Linked DNA regions of Homo sapiens. The protein of the gene in region 2 purifies or fractionates together with the protein of the main gene of each other region. This does not show direct contact. Each region holds a gene or a part of one and is shown on either strand. Other genes may lie near its edges.

Region 1 (3,500 bases), on a different chromosome or scaffold from region 2:
AGGTGAAGGAGTCCTGGGCTAGGGGCAGGAACTCAGCTGGTGGGACAGGCAGCTTGGGAAGCAAAAGGCTACTTGACCCTTGATGCCGCAAACATCCCTGGGCCTGGCCTCATGTCTGTGGCTGGTGATGACATTGCTTTGCCGCAGGTCTTCCTGTCTTCCTGAGTGACCTCAGGCAAGTCACACCTCCTCCCCACAGGGGACTCAGTTTTCTTATCTTTACAAAAGGGAAGTGAACCGGATCCACTGATTGCTGATTTTGTGGATAAATGGGCCCTTTTGAGAATCTGATGAAAGCTACGGCTCTGCTCCCAGAGAAACGCAGAAAATGCCCTTTGCCTGTGGTTTCTGGGGGTTAAGAAGCACTGAGTTCAGATCCACGCAGGTCAGGAGCTATCTGTTTTCCTTTTTTTTTCTTCTTTTTTAAGATGGAGTCTTGCTCCATCGCCCAGGCTGGAATGCAGTGGCGAATTCTCGACTCACTGCAACCTCCGCCTCCCAGGTTCAAGTGATTCTCCTGCCTCAGCCTCCCAAGTAGCTGGGATTACAGGCGCACACCACCATGCCCGGCTAATTTTTGTATTTTTTTAGTAGAGATGGGGTTTCACCATGTTGGCCAGGCTGGTCTCGAACTCCTGACCTCAGGTGATCCACCTGCCTTGGCCTCCCAAAGTGCTGAGATTACAGACGTGAGCCATCGTGCCCAGCCCTATTTTAATTTTTAAAATAGAGACAGGGTCTCACTATGTTGCGCAGGCTTGTCTCAAACTCCTGGGCTCAAGTGATCCTCCCACCTTGGCCTCCCAAAGTGCTGGGATTACAGGTGTGCGCCAGCGTGCCCAGCTGAAATACCCATTTTCCTATGTGCAGACTAATAGGGTCAAACATGGGTATTGGGGGCCAGGCACTGTAATCCCAGCACTTTGGGAGGCCAAGGCGGGTGGATCACCAGAGGTCATGAGTTCAAGACCAGCCTGACCAACATGGTGAAACCCCGTCTCTACTAAAAATACAAAAATTAGCTGGGTGTGGTGGCATGTGCCTGTAATCCCAGCTACTCAGGAGGCTGAGGCAGGAAAATCACTTGAACCTGGGAGGCGGAGGTTGCAGTGAGCCGAGATCATGCCACTACACTCCACACTGGGCAATAGAATGAGACTCCATTTCTAAAAAACAAAAAACAAAAACACACACAAAAAACATGAGTATTGGAACCCTGCTGCAGGGGCTCCCTCCACTGGGACAAGATCTGTCCTGATCATGCCCAGGCCTCCCCTGCATGTGGCTCTGGCATTTTCTCAGTGCTGCTCTGCCTACTCAGAGAAGGCGCGTCCCAGACCCTTTCTCTTGGGGCTTCTCTGAGGTGCCTGGAGCTGGGATGTTCCAGGTCTTCGTTCTTCTCCCAGCCCCTGCTTCTGACTGTAAGTAACCACAACAAGTACAGGGGTTGCCGTGGATTCTGTGCTCATGATGGGCCAGGCTTGGTGCCCCACGCTTGTTCAACACAAATCCTCCCCCTCACCCCATGAAGAAGGGATTATTCCTATTTTATAGATGAGGAAACTGAGGCTTAGAGAGAAGTGACTTGCCCGAGGACATAATCTACTCACTGCACAGCTGGGATTTGAGCCCAGCTGGTTGGACCCTGAGCCTGACCTCTGGGTCTGATGCTGGGTGGGACTGTGCTTTCTGACCCCCAGATGAGGTCGTGCTCAAGTTTGAAATGGGCCATGTGAGAGCGAGGAACCTGGCCTATGACACCCTCCCGGTCCTGATCCATGGCAACGGGCCAACCAAGGTAGGGGGTCCCCAGCCCCTGGGGAGTGTGGGAGGGGGCCAGAGCCCTAATTTCATTCTCACTGTGACCCCACAGTGTCTCCCTGGGGCCAGGGCCACCTTCCTGGGGCCTGCTATGAACTCACTGCCTCTGTCCTCACATCTGAGCTCAGCGTGATGCCTTCTTTTCCTGCTGTGGTGGTCAGTGGTACTCTGTCTGTTCTTGCTGGTCACAGGACACGTAGGAGGCTGCCATCCCCTTCCAGGCCTAGGCTGGGCTACCAGAGCCATCTGCACTGTCACCCCAGGGCAGAGTCACTTATTCACTCAGTAAACCTTTATTTCATGTTTGCACCAGACAGTAAGACATAGTCATAAGCAGGACGGATGTCCTGCATTCATGGTGACAGAAGGGACTGGGTGCAGATGCGGCCAGGGACAGAATGGACCTCACTGGTCCCTGGGGAACTGGCTCATAGCTCATAGCATATTTGAGTGTGGTCCTTCACCGCTGGAATGAGGGAGAGGAAGGAGGATGTGATGTGTTTAAAATGCAAATTTGCTGATTTCACCCAGGATCTGTTCAGATGGAATCTCTGAGCGGGGTGGGACCCAGGAATCTGCATTTTACAAGCTCTCGGGAGAAGCACTAGAGTGCCAAGCCCTCCCCTGCCCTCTCTCAGAGCGGCTTGGTGATCTCCTGGGGATGGAGCATTATCTCCAAGACCCTCTTAGGGAGTGGGAGGGGGCTGGATGGTGCTGACCCACTGGGGGCCCAGGGAGATGTGAGTCAGGGCTATGGCAGGTGGGGCTGGCTGGCTTCTCTGTGACCCCACGTCTCCCCGACAGCTGCAGTTGAACTACCTGGGCAACTACATCCCGCGCTTCTGGACCTTCGAAACAGGCTGCACCGTGTGTGACGAAGGCTTGCGCAGCCTCAAGGGCATTGGGGTGAGGCTGCGCCCAGGCCTGTGCCTGAGGGACACGGGGGGCTCAGTCCCCTGAGATGGCGAGATGGGTGATTCTGGAATAGACTCCATTGTCTTTGGTGGAAAGTGAAGGGGTCACCTCCCTGCCTGGGGTTCTATCCCGGTTGCCACCCAAGTGCCTCCTCCTGGAAGCCCTCTCAGATTGCATGTCTCTAGCTTCCCCCGAGATGTCCAGGTTCTGGTTTCTTCTGCCTGGTCCTTCAGGCTCTCCTGCAGCCCCCTCCCCATCCCATGAACCTCATCCTCATTTATGACTCACCTCGAACACCACGCCAGCCACGATCTCCTGACAGCAGGCCCTCAACCGAGTCCTTGTTCCAGGCCTGGGCTCCTGCTGCTCTCTCCCCGGGGCACCCTCCTGCTGCTTCCCTGCCCCCCCGTACCCCCTGACTGGAGTTCCCCGGCCCGGGCACCTTTCTTGGGAAGTCTACATGCTTCTGATTCTGGCTCTGACTCCCTTGGGCCACCCTGGGGTGGAGTGGCAGTGCTGTGACTGGACACTGCTGGACTCTTGTGCCGCCCTCCCTGGTGCAGGATGAAGCTCTGCCCACGGTCCTGGTCGGCGTGTTCATCGAACAGCCCACGCCGTTTGTGTCCCTGTTCTTCCAGCGGCTCCTGCGGCTCCACTACCCCCAGAAACACATGCGACTTTTCATCCACAACCACGTGAGTAACAGGCGCTCTGTGGGGTCGTCATGTGGCTTAGATCCAGGGCCCAGCTTCACAAGGTAGCCC
Region 2 (3,500 bases):
CTAGATGTATTCCCTTCTATCCCATCTTCCCCTTGAAACACATAGTGGGAATGTCCCTGAAATGGACAGCACCTATGCCAGGTCCCTGGATCTGGATCCTGGAGGGCTGGAGGTGGTTGGGGTTCATTCTTTGCTGCTTATTTGACAATGTCTCCCTTTTCAGGGTAACCCTGGAACAGATGGAATTCCTGGAGCCAAAGGATCTGCTGTGAGTGTTGCCCGTGGACTTTGCTACCCCAGGAGAGCCCAGTCCTGCCTCTCCCCTCTCCTGACACCCCTCCCTTCTTCTCATGCCCACAGGGTGCTCCTGGCATTGCTGGTGCTCCTGGCTTCCCTGGGCCACGGGGCCCTCCTGGCCCTCAAGGTGCAACTGGTCCTCTGGGCCCGAAAGGTCAGACGGTAAGAGCCCAAAGTGACCCCCAAGTTCCACTGACATCTCTGGAGTCAAACCCCATCACCCCTCTTTCCCATGCTCTCCTGCCCTGGCCTCACAGCGGCCTCCATCCGAGGGCATCTTGAACAGGGGTTCTGGGGAGGGGCAGGCTCCCTGGAGAGAATCTGGTGTGAGGACCTGCCTCTCTTTTCAAGGGTGAACCTGGTATTGCTGGCTTCAAAGGTGAACAAGGCCCCAAGGGAGAACCTGTGAGTATCTGCCCCCAAGCCCTTGTCTTCTCTGCTGCTGTTCTATGAGGCACAGGCCTCAGCCCCACTGACCCACCACCTCCCTCCTCCAGGGCTCTATCCCCCAATCTGGGTCCTTTCAGATTATGCCTGGAGGAGACTTAACAGGGCTGAGAAGGCCCAGATACAGCTTCAGCTCCCATCCTTGGTTTGGCTAGTGTGAACAGTTGGATCTTTAGCCCCTCTCACTTCCCTCTGCCCTGCCATGGCTCGTCCTTTATGGCCTCTCGTCCTCAAGCCCCCCCCCAGCCCTGAAACAGTTGCCAAGGCTACTTCCTTCATACTCTGAGTCGAGGCTTGCTCCAAGGCCAGGTGAAGGCTCACTCTGTTTCTCTTTTTTGCTGGTCCTCAGGGCCCTGCTGGCCCCCAGGGAGCCCCTGGACCCGCTGGTGAAGAAGGCAAGAGAGGTGCCCGTGGAGAGCCTGGTGGCGTTGGGCCCATCGGTCCCCCTGGAGAAAGAGTTAAGTGAATGTGGAGGCTCCATCCCATGGGGCCTGTGACCTCGAGAGGGAAGTGGAGTCCTTGTGGTCCGTGTTCTGGTCAAGTCTCGTGACTTTTCCGCATGTCATCCTCCTCTTTCTCCATCCACACCGCGGGGAGAGGGAGTCTGATCCTGATTTGTGCCGCCAACCACCAGACTGACATGAAATAGTCTGAGCTCCTTCCCAGGAAGCGGGGCAGGCTCCAGAAGTTAACCTCTGAGAATCCTGCAGGCCACAGCTACTGCTCCCCAGAAATTGGGGTTGGTGGGTTAGTGGGATGGACCCACTGGAGCCTGGCTGGGTTGGGGCTGTTCTCACTCACTGCCTCTCCTCCCTGTGGCTCCTTAGGGTGCTCCCGGCAACCGCGGTTTCCCAGGTCAAGATGGTCTGGCAGGTCCCAAGGTGAGTGGGAGAAGAGGGGCTGGGGTCCCTCCCTGCATCGCTGAGGTCACATGGTATCCCACTGACTCCCTGTGTACCCTTGTAGGGAGCCCCTGGAGAGCGAGGGCCCAGTGGTCTTGCTGGCCCCAAGGGAGCCAACGGTGACCCTGGCCGTCCTGGAGAACCTGGCCTTCCTGGAGCCCGGGTAAGTAGCAGAGCTGCTGTTGCCCTTGGCTTCAGACCCTCAGGCCCTTCCTGGCTGGCTCCTTCCAGCCCTGCACTGCCAGGATTGGGAGGTCCTGGGGCCGGCTCCTGACCCCACCCTCTTCTCTCTCCTGAACAAAGGGTCTCACTGGCCGCCCTGGTGATGCTGGTCCTCAAGGCAAAGTTGGCCCTTCTGTAAGTCTATCCTCTGAGGGCTGCTAGGAGGGTGGGGGGATCTCCCTGGGGAAGCAAGGGAAAAGAGAGATGGAGTTTGGGTTAGGGAGGCCTGAAGTACTGTGAATTTTGAGAATTGTGACAGGGGGTAGATGGTAGGCACTGGGGCCAGATGTAACCTGTGCAGTAGCTGTGAGCACTGAAAATGCCACCCCAGTATGCATTCGGGGCTTATCCTTGGGGGAATGATGACATCGTGTGTGCACTTTCTGGGGCAGCTTTCTAAGCTCAGCGGTGTCTTGTTGTAGATGGGCCCATGGGTGTGATGTGGTCAATCCTAGATGCTGAGCATGTGTGGCTGGTGCCTAGTCCTGGGCCTGCCATGTAGGCCCTTAGTGGATGTTGGGTGGATGGATGTGGTCAGAGTGTCTATGTTCTGAGAATGGTGTTCTGTCTTTCAGGGAGCCCCTGGTGAAGATGGTCGTCCTGGACCTCCAGGTCCTCAGGGGGCTCGTGGGCAGCCTGGTGTCATGGGTTTCCCTGGCCCCAAAGGTGCCAACGTAAGTAATAATTTGCTCTTCTATTTCCTTCCATGTGGTGCTACCTACCTCCCTGCCCTCTTGGGGAAAGGGCTGGGTCCTGAGTAGAGTTTAACCAGGGACAGTGATGAGTGGGGCTCCTGTGCCATGGGTGGCAGTGGGGGTCTGTATGTGATTTGGGGAAAATCCATGGCCCCACAGAGCCTCGGGGCATTGCGGCCATAATTGTTCCATGTGGCAGTGCCCAGCAGGCTGGTTGCCATTATGGCCCCTGAACAGAAGAGAAGGGCTGATACTTTGCTTTATCTTGGCTGTCCATCAGGATGTGGCCCCAGGCCTCAGTCCCTGCAGCCCGCTCTGCCCCCAACTCCCTCCCAAACCATCCGCCTCATGGCCCTGCCCTCTCTTTCCTTCAGGGTGAGCCTGGCAAAGCTGGTGAGAAGGGACTGCCTGGTGCTCCTGGTCTGAGGGTAAGTATCCTTCCCCGCTGCCCATGACTTGGTGTTGGCCGGGCATCTGCAGGGAGGACAGGGGAACGGCCTCCCCATGGCATGGTCCCGGGACCCCTCAGTATTGAGTGTTGATCTCTGTGGCTGAGCCCCATGCTGGCTGGGCCCTTTGGGTGTCTACACAGGGAGACTTCTGTTTGCCATTGGTCAGCAGGCCGGGGAGCTGGGGAAGGCTTCCATGCTGAGAACAGCTAAGAAAAGACGGGGCCTGGGAAGGAAGGGAGGGGAAGGTGTGGAAATGGAGCTCAGCTGGGGTACCGTGGAGGTCTGGAAACTCTGGGCCAGAAGTACCTTTGCCCAATCCTAGGGGGACTGCAAGTGGGAAGAAAAGCGTGTCATTGACTTTTCTTTTTCTCTTCTGTCTAGGGTCTTCCTGGCAAAGATGGTGAGACAGGTGCTGCAGGACCCCCTGGCCCTGCTGTAAGTACCTGCCCAGCCTCCCCAGGTGGCCCTGGGGGCAGGGGCTGGGAGGGGTGGGGGTGGGAGAGCCCATCCATTAATGGAGCTGACAGATGTGAATGTGGGCTGAG

The links. Proteins that work in one complex are often made in the same cells at the same time.
Region 1: the proteins of COL2A1 (region 2) and PLOD1 purify together in Homo sapiens (affinity purification with mass spectrometry; 2 studies listed by BioGRID and IntAct, with this or other methods). This does not show direct contact.

What each region holds. Positions count from the first base shown.
Region 1 is NC_000001.11:11,955,217-11,958,716, forward strand, and holds part of PLOD1 (procollagen-lysine,2-oxoglutarate 5-dioxygenase 1 isoform 2 precursor), read left to right. Parts: intron 1-1,700; coding exon 1,701-1,798; intron 1,799-2,625; coding exon 2,626-2,727; intron 2,728-3,299; coding exon 3,300-3,431; intron 3,432-3,500. UniProt on the Homo sapiens protein: Part of a complex composed of PLOD1, P3H3 and P3H4 that catalyzes hydroxylation of lysine residues in collagen alpha chains and is required for normal assembly and cross-linkling of collagen fibrils.
Region 2 is NC_000012.12:47,983,977-47,987,476, reverse strand, and holds part of COL2A1 (collagen alpha-1(II) chain isoform 1 precursor), read left to right. Parts: intron 1-163; coding exon 164-208; intron 209-300; coding exon 301-399; intron 400-588; coding exon 589-642; intron 643-1,033; coding exon 1,034-1,141; intron 1,142-1,511; coding exon 1,512-1,565; intron 1,566-1,650; coding exon 1,651-1,749; intron 1,750-1,889; coding exon 1,890-1,943; intron 1,944-2,383; coding exon 2,384-2,482; intron 2,483-2,877; coding exon 2,878-2,931; intron 2,932-3,336; coding exon 3,337-3,390; intron 3,391-3,500. UniProt on the Homo sapiens protein: Type II collagen is specific for cartilaginous tissues. It is essential for the normal embryonic development of the skeleton, for linear growth and for the ability of cartilage to resist compressive forces.